Linked DNA regions of Homo sapiens. The protein of the gene in region 4 interacts with the protein of the main gene of each other region in a pairwise test. Each region holds a gene or a part of one and is shown on either strand. Other genes may lie near its edges.

Region 1 (3,500 bases), on a different chromosome or scaffold from region 4:
GCTCTAGAAGTAGAGAACCATTTAAAGTTGCTCAGAGTCCCCAAGTTATTTCACAACCTGCTACCCCAGGATGAAATGCACTCACTTTGCCTTGTCAGCTTCGCAGATAACTTCCCAGCCTTAAGAACCAAATCCAGGTGTTAACTTTCCTTCCCTAAATCATCATTCTGCTTCACCCCAAACTGCGCCCCCTACAATGGGGACAAAATAATGACTCCCTATCTCTGTGGAATCTCCATACTATTCATTTCTCACCATAGTACATAGTTACATGTTTACCTATCAGCTCTTCAACTCCATTCTTCTTTCGAGACCTGTGTTTTATCATTTTATCCCTATCATAAGAACATGAAGTACATGAAGGTAGTAATGAGAGGTGACACCGTGCTGTCAGCCCTCACTCGCTCTCGGCGCCTCCTCCGCCTTGGTGCCCACTCTGGCCGCGCTTGAGGAGCCCTTCAGCCCGCCGCTGCACTGTGGGATCCCCTTCCTGGGATGGCCCAGGCCAGAGCCGGCTCCCTCAGCTTGCAGGGAGGTGTGGAGGAAGAAGCGCGGGCAGGAACGGGGGCCGCGCGTGGCGCTTGTAGGCCAGCTAGAGTTCCCAGTTGGCGTGGGCTTGGCAGGCCCCGGGCAGTGAGGGGCTTAGCACCCAAGCCAGCAGCCGCGAAGGGTGCGCCAGGTCCCCCAGCAGTGCCGGCCCACTGGTGCTGCGCTCGATTTCTCGCCGGGCTTTAGCTGCTTCCCCGTGGGGCAGGGCTCAGGACCTGCAGCCCGCCATGCCTAAGCACCCCCCACGCCATGGGCTCCTGCACGGCCCCAGCCTCCCCGATGAGCGCTGCCCCCTGTTCCTAGGCGCCCAGTCCCATCGACCACCCAAGGGCTGAGTAGTGCAGGCACAAGGCGCAGGCAGCTCCACCTGTGGCCCCAGTGCGGGATCCACTGGGTGAAGCCAGCTGGGCTCCTGAGTCTAGTGGGGACCTGGAGAAACTTTATGTCTAGCTAAGGGATTGTGAATACACCAATCAGCACTCTTTATCTAGCTCAAGGTTTTTAAATACACCAATCAGCACTCTGTATCTAGCTAATCTAGTGGGGACCTGGAGAACTTTTGTGTCTAGCTCAGGGATTGTAAACACACCAATCAGCACCCTGTCAAAATGGACCAATCAGCTCTCTGTAAAACAGACCAATCGGCTCTCTGTAAAACGGACCAATCAGCAGGATGTGGGTGGGGCCAGACGGGAGAATAAAAGCAGGCTGCCGGAGGCAGCAGTTGCAACTGCTTGGGTCCCCTTGCAGACTGTGGAAGCTTTGTTGTTGTGCTCTTTGCAATAAATCTTGCTACTGCTTGCTCTTTGAGTCTGTACTGCCTTTATGAGCTATAAAACTCACCGCAAAGGTGTGCAGCTTCACTCCTGAACCAGCGAGACCACGAACCTACCAGAAGAAAGAAACTCCAAACACATCTGAACATCAGAAGGAACAACCTGTGGACACGCTACCTTTAAGAGCTATAACACTCACGGCGAGGGCCTGTGGCTTCATTCTTGAAGTCAGTGAGACCAAGAACCCACCAATTCCAGACACAGTAACAAACATGTGCTGAGTTGAACATTTATTTGATACAGAAAGGAAAAGAGCCTATGGCCTGTAAATCTGTGTTTCTCAGGATAGTCATTTTATCTAGAATGTTATGAACATATATTTTAAATATGAAAAATGTTTAATACTTATGGCCTAATAAATAACACCTTCAGATCAATCATGCACTCGTTCCTTCAACAAATATTTGGGCTGCCATTAGCTGCCAGGAACTGTGCTGGGCTAGGGCTGCTGCTCATCTGTATGCTGCACTTGTGCAAACTAGAACAGGGTGCCCTCCCTGGACAGATAAAGCAGGGCCCATGTCTCCAAATGCCCACCTCAGCTGGTACCCTTGGGTCTGGAGGCTTTTCCTACAGTAACAAATGAGAGTGAGTCTCTAGGGAGTTCAGATTCTAGTGAGGGGGACGGGCAAACACATTCAATTTTCAACGTTTTCTATATGACTATAAAAAATCAGATTTCCACACACCACACTTGTTCTCATGTAAATCTCCACCTCATTGAACACTGGTTACTACAATCATCAATTTGAACTTAGGCTGAGGCATCCACCTGAGGCAACAGAGATTTCTAGACAGGAAACAAGCACTATTTCCAGATTCACGGAGGCCATAAAATTGACTGCATTTTCAAAGATCACCTTATGGTGACTAGCCAAATTGATTTTACCAAAAAACATTTCAAATTAATTTATTTGATTTTTAAGTCACTTCTCCCCTACATACGCTTCAGAATTTTTTTTCTGTAATGGTAAATATTTCATAAAACACCATAGTCAGTTTGGAATTATTTGCTTTAATAGTTCTTGTTTTTAGCACTACTACATTCTTATCTCCTGAAGTTTAATATAAAAGATAATTGCTATTCACCATTGATATAACACGAGAACAATACAAATCTTTTTAAACAATAAGCTAGAATACACTTACTTTTCTACTATTAAAAGTATTCGCGGTTGATGGAAAACACACACTTTTCTGTCTTTGCATGAAATGTGTATCATATATATATTTGTGACCCACTGCTTCTTCGTGGAAAATAACTCAGTTTGCCTCTGACTTCTGCAAGTAATGGTCTGAGTGAATGCCTACAATTCTCTTCACTTCTTATCTTGTTAATCTAACTGATGGAGTGGTACAAAAATAAACCTCAAAAGAACTATGGAGGAAGAGTGAAAAAAAAACATAAAATTCTTAATGATCCAGTTGGCAAAGAATATTTAACCATTACTTTCAGATTCCTTGACCCAAATATGGTTCCTATTAACAAATAGCAACTTTCAGCCTTTAATACCCCATCTAATGGTTTGGAAGGAATGCACTGTAATTTCGTCAAATTCAATTCATTCATTCAACAGATATTTATTAAGTATCTCCTGAGAGACAGGAATTGTGCAGGACTGCTGGAAATGAGCAAGAGAAATAGCGCTCCTCACCAGGCAGGGTCAACATCTAACAAACGGCCATTCCTGTCACCAAAGAGATACTTTGTTAAAAGATTTACAGCAAGCCTTACTTCTACTTAATGCAATGCTTTACCTCTTAGATTTCTGGGATGAATTTGTTTAGTTCGAGGCATCTTCTTTGACTCAGGGCCTTCTTTTTCTTCTTAAAAACTGCAGATAAAGCAAGCCACCAAAAGGCAGCTCCATAAACTCAACATACATCAATTAATCCATGTGCTGAAAAAGAAAAAAACGGAGAAGCACATTTTACTACCTTCAGAGGAGAAAGATACTTTAAAAGTTACTGCCTAGCAGAGCACTAACCTAAACTCAAGAAAAAGTAACCAAGCTGGGCACCACTGCAAAAGATTACTAACTTTTAATTAAACAGAGGTCATTTTGTCAGTATCGGGACTTCTCATTAAGAAAACAGAAAAAAAACACCGTATCT
Region 2 (4,059 bases), on a different chromosome or scaffold from region 4:
CTTTTCTCCTCAAGAGTTCCCTCCCTCAGAGATTCTATCTGTTCTCATTCATTCTATCTAGGTCCACCTCTATGTGGATGTCAGCTGATCTCCCTCAAAGGCACTTCTCCAGGATTTATTCTCTCTAGGTATAACATTTAGTTTTGCCTATACAGTTAATTTTGCTCCAGTCTTCCCAATTTCCCTTTCATCATCCACAGCACCATTGATTTCCTGATGCTGCACATTTCCAGTCTTGGAATTACCTTTGATTCTTCTTAAGCTTGTCACTTCCAAATTATTTTCCAAATTCTCTTCACCCTAACTCCACTGGGCCCATTAACTTTGTCCACTGTTTCCTCCTCTCCCTTCTCTGTCCCTATGTGACACCGGAGCCAGATTTTCTCTTTCGTTGGGTGTGTAAGTATCCGACTCGCCTCCTGCCCGGGCGTGTTGCCGGAGGATGTGGCCAGCAGGCTGAACACACATGACAACGTGAGGCTCAAAGTCAGGAAGGAATCCTTAGCGATTATTTTACAGTTGAGGGATGAGATGCCCGGGGTGGACAACCCTCTGGTTTCGGTCACAATCAGCCAGCCTCTCGCGCTCCAGCACCCCCTCTATTGCTTCGCCGTGGTCGGTGTCTTCTTTCCTTCACACCTTTGGTACAGACCCAGCCGGCACCGCGCGCAACGCCGCTAGAGCCCCTCAGAGCCCCAGCTCCCGACCACCCGCCGGAGAATTTCGAGTCCCTCAGGAAAGCAGCTCCCATTGGCCAGCCCGGCCCCCTCCCCGCACCTCATTGGCTACTGTCCTGCAGGTCCCGCCCTCTCGGCGCCTCAGGTTCCAGCGAGGGCGTAACGGCAGTGAAGTGAAAAATGGCGGGAAAGGCCGCCTCTGAGCTGGCCGTGCATCTGCGCAACGCTGGCTTGGGAGCCGGCCGGTGGTGGAGGAGCCCTCGACGACAGCCTCAAGGCCTGCCGCTCCTCACGCGCCCGGCTGCCACTAGACCATGGACGCAGGCAGCCGCGCGCTCCACCGCTCCGGGCCCGGCGCTCCACGCCGATCGGACGGGCGTCGCTCACACCACCGAGGCGAGCCCGGACACTGAAGCCACTTTGTTGTCCTCGGCCCAGGGCTGCAGGTTCTGCAGCGCGAAGAGCGACGAGTTGTGCAGGCAGAGAGGGTCCGGGGGCAGCGGCGGCCGCAGCGGCCGTGGCAACGCGTCCTGCTGCAGATGCAGGAGCAGCCGGCCCGCGCGGTGCCGCTCGGCCTCGCGCTCCTCCGCCGTCTGGCGCCTAAGGGAGGGAGACGCGGGGTCAGCGGGGCGCCCGCCGCGTCGCTTCTCACCAGGCCCTGCTCGGGAACCCCAGTCCGCCCTCGCCCGCGCCGCGCCTCACCGCCACTTGGTGCGTCGGTTCTGGAACCACGTTTTGACCTGTGCGTCGGTCATGCGCAAGGCCTTGGCCAGCGCCGCCCTCTCCGCAGAGGCCAGGTACTTCTGGCGCAGGAAGCGCCGCTCCAACTCCAGCACCTGTGAGCGGGAGAAGGACGTGCGCGGCTTCTTCCGCTTCGGAGGGGTCCGGTTTTGGTAGGGGTGGCCTATGCGGCGCGTCCCAGAGAAGGGCGAGAGCGCAGCTACCGGGAGGAAGAAAGACCAGGGCAGGATTTGCAGGGTGGCCCGAGGTGCCACTGAGAAGGCCGCGCGGCTGTCCAGGCCGCAGAACTCCCGCGCCCTGTCCTTACCCGGGCCCTAAGCATCAGCCGAGCCCTATAGCCAAGAAAGGCCCTTCCCCTGGGATGCGAGGGAGACGTCCCCTGTAACTTCACCCTCCCCTCCCCACGCGTGGACAGTGGGACTACAGAGGAGGGCGCGGGCACCGACGGCAGCTCCCTCCCCATCACCTCTCGGAGGCAGGACCCAGAGATTTGAGTTGGGGGAGGATCCCCTGGGAGGATCTAGTGGGAGGTGTGAAAGGGGTCCTTGAGTTGGAGCAGAAAGCTAAGAAATGAGGAGACGGGGTCAGAGTCGGGCGTGACGCTGGAGGGGTCAGACAACCTCACCCGTGAGCCGGTCCTTGGCAAAGCGGCGGCCGCTGTCCATCCAGGGGAAGGTGAGTCCCGCTAGGCCTCCGGCGCCGCCCAAACCCGAGGGCCCAGGCACTGCAGGCGCCCCCCCAGCGGGCGGCGGCACAGGCAGCGGGCGGTGCGCAGGGACGCGGATCACGCCGCCTGGGCCCACTCCGGAGCTGCCGGGCAGCGGGGCAAGTGAGCCGGCGGGACCGTAGCCCGAGGCTCCGTGGTATCCACCCGAGAACGCCCCATTCTCCCCATGACCCTGGCCCCCGCGACCCAGGCCTAGACCGCCCCCTGGGGTTTCGGGGCCGCTCAGGATCTGATCGATGCCGAAGCTGATTGGCTCGTGGTGTGGGAGGTTGTGTGGACCCAGCATCCCCGGCTCCATCGGTCTGGGCCGAGGAGAACCGCCGGAGGTTCGGTGGTTGGGGAGGATGCCTCAGGCAGCGCCAGAAGCCCAGCGGCGGCGCGCTCCGGAGAGTGGCCTCAGGGGCCCGCGGGGCTGGCCAAGGCAGGGCGCCGGGGTCCCCGAAACAGCAGCATCCCTGTGCACCCGGAGCAGCCGCGCCCGTGCCAGCCGCTGCCGGGCGTCAGCGCAGGGACTTGCATCCCGGGGGAGCACGGCCAGCTGGGGCCCCTGGAGCTTCCTTGCTGGCTCTTAAGCGCAAATAGACGCTGGGCTGCCGGCGCCGCTGCCCAAGTCCCGGGTGGAGAGGGTTGGCCAGCTCCGGCTGGGGCAGTGACTGACGGATCGGCCCGGGTGGGTAGTGGGGGCTGGGGGTAGGGCAGGGGCGGGGCCCAGCAGTTAAAGGGGAAGGGACGCCTGTTTGCGCCAAGCGCAGGGGGAAGGCTGGCTGGCGGAGATGTGCGGGGAGGGGGACAGGGGGCCAGGGTGTTAGGAGCCAGGCTCAGCGCGGGAGGGGCCCGAGCATGGGCCGCTGAGTCAGCGGAGATGCTCACCGCGCCTCCATCCTTGCTGGCCTCCGCCTTTGGGCGGCCTCCGCCTTTGGGCTGCCTCCGCCTCACCGGCTTCCTCCGCAGGTGCCTCCTCCCCCAGCCCCCACTCTTCGCCTCTCGATGGATCCTTCTGGCCAACTCCCGGATTCGTTGTGGTCCCCGCCTAAATGCTCTCGAAGACCAAATCTCGTTGTGGTTTCCCGGCTGCGTAAGAAGCGGCTGGGGAACGGCGCCCGGTGAGCTGCAGGCCCAGGAAGAGAACAGGTGTGGGAAGGGGACGGCAGGGGCTAAGGGCGGGGAACGGCCGCTTTGGGCTGGCGATCGTGGTGCGCCTTCTGGCCTCTCCTGTAGGTCCCCCCAGCCCTGTTCATGCGCACCGGTAATTGGTGTCCTGTGTTTCCTAGAATTTCGATTTTCCAAAATCCGTGTAAAACGGACCATGGCTCAACCCGGGCCAAATCAGGCCGGCGGGTTCTTGGGGCTGGCACTTACCCCCGGACCCCAAGTGCAGGGAGTCCTCAATGCAGGACTCTGCCCCTCCATTCTGTGCCTAGGAAGTCTGTTCTCACACTCTTCCTCCTCAACGGCGGGAGGGCGAAATCTCGCCACGGGGGACACGTGGGACCTCACTGAGGCCTTGGTTGGATCCTGGCCGCCTTGTTTCCCATAAACATTTTACCCCACCCAAACTCAAAAAATGGCCTGGAGCTGTCAGAGAAGGGAGGTGGGGAAAGACCTAAGCCGCTTGGTGACCTTGTGACCTCTGGCCATGAATCCAGGAGCCGGGAGTGCGTGAACTCTGCGTCCTTCCCGGGGATGGGACCCCCGCGGGCGGGCCCCTGAGCCTTAGACCCGCCCCCGCCGCCGCCCTGCCCGGTGCAGGCCGCGGTAATCGGGTTAGCTGGGCCGGAATTACATTACCTTCCCCGGCCCGCCCCGGCCCCCGGGGGGGCCCTGGCGCCTCTGAGCCGGTGAGACTGGGCTCAGAGAGGGGGGCGCTTCTACCATCCTGCGGTGGCGGTGGCGGGTGGGCACCAACGAGCAGCT
Region 3 (3,500 bases), on a different chromosome or scaffold from region 4:
ATAATGTATAACGCAAATCCAGTTGAAATCTCAGGTAACCCTAAAAGCTTAGGGCTACATCTCAACTTTTATTTCATTACTGACAGCTTCCATAAGAGCTAGAATGGATACTTCAGAATTCAAACAACTAAGAACAGTCAGTCAAAAAAACAAACAAACAAAAAAAAACAAAAAACCCAAAGTCAGCATTTGTTTTGAAATGAGTTGCCTAGAAATTAGACTTGAAAGTAACAGCTAGGGAAAAAAACAAATTTGGGGCATCATAGCCTGAATACTTAAATTGTCATAGATTAGGTAATAGAAATCTATTAGGTACAACATTTGCAACCCCCAAATGAAGGATATCTAATTAATTTAAAAATTCATTCATGTGGCCGGGTGCGGTGGCTCACGTCTGTAATCCCAGCACTTTAGGAGGCTGAGGCCTCCACCTGAGGTCAGGACGACTCCATCTGAGGTCAGGAGTTTGAGACCAGCCTGCCCAACATGGTGAAACCCCGTCTCTACTAAAAATACAAAAATTAGCCAGGCGTGGTGGCTCATGCCTGTAATCCCAGCTCCCCGGGAAGCTGAGGCAGAAGAATCACTTGAACCCAGGAGACAGGTTGCAGTGAGCCGAGATCACGCCATTGTACTCCAGCCTGGGCGCCAGAGCGAGACTCCATCTCAAAAAAAAAAAAAAAAAATTCATTCATGTTTCTATCTCTCTTTTTCTATCATGCTACTCTGAATTTGGCCTTTCTCCAGAGCCAGTAAAACCTGCTAAAAGGCGAAAAATGATAAAACTTAATTTGCTGTTTAATGTATTAAAATATTTCTTCTGTAAGCCTTTTTAAGTGCCTCCCAACCCCCCACCATCTACCTTCGATCTATTTCAAAAAACTATAAAATCACCACTCAATGGTGTGATATAGTAATCCATAGGTATTCTAAATGTATTAGATTAATAAAATATACCTTGAACAACAACCTGGCTGCCTGGGACAAAGAACTGCTGTGTGCCATCAGCTGATTGTGCTGCGTACTGTACAATTGTAGCACCTGGTGGAGGAGCTCCTGAATTTGTCATTGTTAATGCCTGCAGTCCCTGAACACCATCAGATCCTGGGTTAGAAATCTGGATTGTTCCACCTTGGGCTATAGCAACTTAACAGAAAAAGAAAAGAAATATTAGAGAATTTCAAGATTTATTTTTAATAATCCCCTATTGGAAGAATATACTCTGGGTCTATTTATTACCATTGCTTCTTTCTCAGGTTACCCTTATTTTCTATGCTGAATTGAGAAGGAAGATCAGCTTCGTCATGGGACGATACTCTAGGAAAAGCTTATAAACACTTGAAAATATTTTATATTCAGAAATGTTTGAGATTCATAGAGCCCATGGAGTGTTCCTCCTCCTTAGCATCCAGCTGACTACATCACTCAAGAGGAAGAGTGGAGAAGGAGACAGGGAGAGTCCAGCTTCCTGGTTTTCTCCATTCTCTCAGATGTTTTTCCTTATAAACACCATTCTTCTACCATTTAAAATTCCCATTTAAGGCCAGGTGTGGTGGCTCATGCCTGTGATCCCAGCACTTTGGGAGGCCAAGGCAGGAGGATCACTTGAGCCCAGGAGTTCAAGGCCAGCCTGGGCAACACAGGAAAACCCTGTCTCTAAAAAAAGAAAAGAAAAGAAAAGAAAAATTCCCATTTAATATTGCAATTAAAATGAATTTCTACCTTCATTCAGCTAACTACTTTTCTGATTTGTCATCAAAAGAAAGTAGTTTTTAAGAAATATATAGGCAAGGTGCAGTGGCTCACGCCTGTAAACTTAGGACTTTGGGAGGCCAAGGTAGGCAGATCACCTGAGGTCAGGAGTTTGAGACCAGCCTGATCAATATGGTGAAACCCCGCCTCTACTAAAAATACAAAAATTAGCCAGGTGTGGTGGCAGGTGTCTGTAGTCCCAGTTACTCGGGAGGCTGAGACAGGAGAATCACTTGAACCCGGGAGTTGGAGGTTGCAGTGAGCTGAGATTGCGGCACTGCACTCCAGCCTGGGCAACAGAGACTCCATCTAAAAAAAAAAACCAACATACATATAATTATATATGTTATATATAATTATATATTTTATATATATAAATATATAATATATATTATATATTAATATATTTATATATTAATATTAATATATAATATATATTATATATATTATATATTAATATATTAATATATTTATATATTTATATAATATATATCATATATATTATATATTATATATATTATTATATTAATTATATATATTAATTATATATAATATATATTATATGTGATATATATTATATATTATATTATATATAATATATAATATATATCACATATAATATATAAATTATATATTTATATATATAATTTATATTGTATTTATATATAACATATATTTTAATAATTATTATATTTTTATAATTATTTATATTTTATATATAATATATAATTATATATAACATATATACGTATATATACCTATATATGTATATATGTTATGTACAATTATATATAACATAATTATGTTATATATAATTTGTTATATATTATATATAACTATATATAATTATAACTATATATAATTATATATAGTTATATATGTTGTATATATGACCAAAATTTTTAATATATATTTATTATAATTATATATGTCATATGTTATATATAACTATATAATTTACATATATTATATATTTATATATAAATATATATAAAAACATATTTTGGTTATAAAGCTAAAGTCTAGAAAACTGTAACCTTTGCCATTTTGTCTATGTCAGGAGAATCCTGAAATATAAATTGTCAAGTTGCAAAGGTCCTTAAAAAGTAACTGTTACTAAAAGGATTTGTGCTACAATATTTACCTCTACCAAGTATCTCAAGTAACTACAGCTAATGGCAACAAATAGGAAGTAGATTTCCTTTAAATACTGAGATCTGCCAGTCATGTTTAAAAGTTAACATATTAATTGACTTGAAGCTTCCAAAGAATAACTGATCAAACGTTTTGTTTCAAAATTTCACTCTAATAGACAAGTATTATTTAAAATATCTGAAAGGTCTGTATATTTTAACATAAAGATTCCAACTGCATGCTTCAAACAGTAGATATTAAATGGTACCAGAGGCTATGCTTTTTAAAAAATCACATATAAACTAGCTAACTAGGCTTTACAATGAAGATTTTAAAAACACATCACCAGAATAACATGACATCTATACATCAATGTAAATACCTTACAGTAGCGTAACAGTAGTGTTTAAAATACACTCTGAATATTTTCAAGTCATTTCCAAACGTTTTTAAAGGCATCTAGGCAAAAAAGCACTTAGGCGATAACCTGATAGGACAAACCTATGAGAATTATGGAAAGAGTAACAACAACAAATTTTCACTTCTTTCACCTAAGGTGCCAGTGTCTACACAGGAAGATAGATTAACATTTTTAAAAAGACTTCCACATGCTG
Region 4 (3,500 bases):
AATAGCCACCCAGAGTGCAGAGTTATCTAAGAGAAATGTAGAAGGACTCCCAATAAACCACCTCAGAATTGTCACTGCCTCATTCAAGCTGCTGGACAATTTTGGAAAGAATCATTTACACCACATCTTAAGTTTCCACAAAGAAGAACTCAAACTCACATTTTAAAGTACATAAAACAAAAAGTTCTAGGAGGCCGGGGGCCAATTCCCCTTGTGCCCCTCCTTTGACAACAGTGGACAAACACCCCTGAATTAATAATTAAGACAAAAAAGGAAGAAAAAAAAAGTGAGTTAAGATATTGAAAGAGAGAAAGAAAACATCTTTAGAAAAACACGATCACTGTCTCTTTAAAAGAAAACAAAATCCCAGTTGGGAACAGTAATGAGGAATATGCAATCTAAATTGACACCTGGTGGGAGATTATTATTGAATATTATGTACACTCAGAACTTTTTTCATTTTCTTTTTTATTATGAACACCTAGGCAGTGAAAACTGTTATGTTAATACATACATAGACACACCCAAAACATACAAAAATACTATTATTTCAAACTACTAAGAATAGGACAGTTCAATTATTTTCATGCTATGACTTTAAGAGCATTACACTGAAACAAACAAGAAGTTAAACGACATTTTTTTTTTAATATCCCAGAAATATACCAAAATATACATCTAAGCTTTGGAATTACTGAGGTTAGACTAATGCAAGTGCTGGGTAATCGTACTTAATACACGAGTCTAAGGTTCTGCAGGAAAGAAATTATCTTTGGTATCTGCATCAGGCTAATATTATTAACATTTGGATTTTGCTTTGGGATAGAGCTTGTGTGACCCAAGAACCAAGTACCCCCCTCCCCCAACCAACTGAGATTAAAAAGATCCATGTAAAAAGTTCCTTCATTTGCAATCCCCCCACCCCCCAAGTTAAAAAGTCACAGGCATCTACCTAGCACAAAAGGTTGTGAAGTACAATGCATAGTTGCACAGTGGTGCTGCAAAAAGGAAAGAAAACTACAATAAAGAGAAATGAAAAGCTTGATAATCTTTCTGCATGTTTTCTCACAAACAGGACAGCCACTTCCAAGCAGTTCCAGTACAGGAAAAGAAAAAAAGGCTCAGAAGGGCACCGTGGCGTGCATTCGCCCAGCCCCAGAGGTTAAAGCACCCAGCAGAGCAGCCAATCGTGCGCCAGTGTCTTCAACGTCCCCCACTCTGTGGAGTCCTCGGGCCAGTCCAGCAGCAGCTCCCACCCTCCCTAGGCCCTGTGCTAAGTCCCCATAGTGACCCTGGTTGGTGTAGGGTGGATGATGGTGGTGATGGGGTTTTTTGACTTTTGTTTTGGAAAATCTGAAATGCCAATTTGTTTCAGGGCATGCTCACAAGTTTGTGAGGGCCAAAGCTAGGGGCATGCACCTGTGCTGGACCCTGGAAGGTGGTAAGCAGCTTGCCTGCCCTTTCTGATCCAGTCAGAGGGTCCCCCCGCCCCACCTTCCCTGGCCTCACTCTTCTAAGTGCCAGGACACCACAGACTGGACTGATGCTGAAGACTTCCCTTTTCTTTGGTTCTTTTGTTTGTTTTGAGTTTATACAATCATTAAGAAATCTTTGGTTTTGGCTGGAAATTTGAAAAACAAAACAAAACAAAACAAAACAAAGAAACCACCCTCCCCTGGCTTATAGCAGCAGTATCATGACCTGGCTAAGCTTTTTGTCAGCATTAGGGGTGGGAATTGAAGGTTGGGAACTACATTCAAAGAAAAGGTGAAAGGGCTGGGGATGCAGCTTCTAGAGAGCCCATTGGATATAAGATTGTCAAATAATAATAATAATAATAATAAACTTAAATATTTGGATATTTTTGGTCATGTCAAAGGAAAAAAAGTGAAATGTGTATGCAGCAGTCAGCTTAAAGGAGCCTTTGGTGTCTTCCCTTCTACCCAAAGTCCTGAAAAGAAACAGAACCCTGAGGCCTCAGAGGAGAAGGGGTTGGCCTCTACCCCACCAAGGAAAAGGCAAGTACAGAAGTTGACGTGTGGCCAGCTGTCAGAAACACAGGGTGGGTTAGGGGTGTGGATAGCTGGCCAGCCCCTAAAGGCAGGGTGGCAGGGAAAGCAGATGTTAAGAGACCTGTGAAGACCCCTTGCAACAAAAAGGAATAGAAGATTGCAATTTGCCCTCAGTTTGCAGTAGCTTTTAAGCAGCGACATTCAGAGGCTTTAGGGGGTCCCACCCTAGGCTACAGGTCCCATGATGCTATAGGCCAGAGTTTAACATGACTGAGGAGGGAGGGCAGACTTGGCAACTCTGTAGGATTTCGAGAAAGTTAAAGCAAGTCACTCGGTCACGAGTTAGAAATGAGGTATACAACAGCTCCTGGACTTCTGGTGGGTAGAACAGCCCACGCTTACTCACCTAGCCTTCACTACTACCACAGATGAGGGGATGGAAGTACAGACTTATGCGGGAGGAGAGCGTTTCCTGCGGAGTGAGACCTCCTGCGGACTGAGCAATGCACACGTGCCCATGCACGCAGAGGTAAGAAGCTGGAAGTCTTTCTTTCCCCGACCTGACCTTAGGGAAGATACAACATTTATGTTGTCAAAAGCCAATGTTATAATATGATTGCAAAATCTTAGGCTTCCTGCACCAACCTGTTCCATGTTCTCCAACTGTTTGCAGTTTTAAACCTATTCAGGCTGGCACTAGTCCACTCTACTCTTACAAAGTGTGTGCCTTCTGCAGACTCACGCAGGAATGGAACCAAGGACATGGCATCCCCGACTGCCTACAACTACAGCCTTTTGTAGCAGACACTGTCATTTTAGCTTCTGAAAGTGCATTTCATTTCTTCCTATACTTTTAGACCATGAGACTCATTAAGGCTGGGTGGGAGCACAAAGTCTTTTCTCTACTTGGCTCTGTCCTTTTTCATTTGAAAGAGATCCCAATCTTAAGAAACTCAAGTGTTTGGACGTCTCATTTATACACAGCGCTGTATCCAGCTGTCTGCCTGCAGACTTTGGGATATAATGTTTGAGAACTCAATGCCACTGCCAATTTATGAAAGAAGCCTTAAGCTGCTCTTGTGAAGCTGTGGCTAACTTATACAATGATGAACAAGTACACAAAGAAAACAAGGGAAAACTTTGCAGCAGTCCTCAATGTTTTTTACAGTAAATTAGTTTTGGGGTCTTAACTTTTTGACAGTGTCCTGGGTTTAAACCAGAAGGTGGCCCTGGGTGGTGGAGCCCTGTGCAGGGTGGGCAGATACAGGGACACAGAAACAATCATAAATCACATCTTCCCTACCAGGTCCAAGGGACCTTTGTTTCTGTGCTCAAAGTGGTGTTCCATTACACACACCTTGTTTTCCCAGAACTTCTGTTTCAAGTGCTCTAATCTTCAACATCCCTATTACCTACTTATAAACCTATCTAGCACTTTGACAAGTCATACAATATTAATACCACCTTTACATAATGTCAGAACAATAA

The links.
Region 1: the proteins of POU2F1 (region 4) and HIVEP1 interact in a two-hybrid assay, tested with the Homo sapiens proteins (one large-scale study listed by BioGRID).
Region 2: the proteins of POU2F1 (region 4) and TLX2 interact in a two-hybrid assay, tested with the Homo sapiens proteins (one large-scale study listed by BioGRID and IntAct).
Region 3: the proteins of POU2F1 (region 4) and CREM interact in binary tests that used the Homo sapiens proteins (3 or more experiments, as listed by UniProt).

The regions. Positions count from the first base shown.
Region 1 is NC_000006.12:12,015,312-12,018,811, reverse strand, and holds part of HIVEP1 (zinc finger protein 40), read right to left. Parts: intron 3,287-3,500; 5' UTR 3,184-3,286; coding exon 3,144-3,183; intron 1-3,143.
Region 2 is NC_000002.12:74,513,191-74,517,249, reverse strand, and holds TLX2 (T-cell leukemia homeobox protein 2), read right to left. Parts: upstream 2,801-4,059; 5' UTR 2,444-2,800; coding exon 2,044-2,443; intron 1,618-2,043; coding exon 1,380-1,617; intron 1,278-1,379; coding exon 1,061-1,277; 3' UTR 102-1,060; downstream 1-101. UniProt on the Homo sapiens protein: Transcription activator that binds DNA elements with the consensus sequence 5'-CGGTAATTGG-3'. Binds DNA via its homeobox. Required for normal cell death of enteric neurons in the gastrointestinal tract.
Region 3 is NC_000010.11:35,185,846-35,189,345, reverse strand, and holds part of CREM (cAMP-responsive element modulator), read right to left. Parts: intron 1,147-3,500; coding exon 958-1,146; intron 1-957.
Region 4 is NC_000001.11:167,423,386-167,426,885, reverse strand, and holds part of POU2F1 (POU domain, class 2, transcription factor 1), read right to left. Parts: 3' UTR 1-3,500. UniProt on the Homo sapiens protein: Transcription factor that binds to the octamer motif (5'-ATTTGCAT-3') and activates the promoters of the genes for some small nuclear RNAs (snRNA) and of genes such as those for histone H2B and immunoglobulins.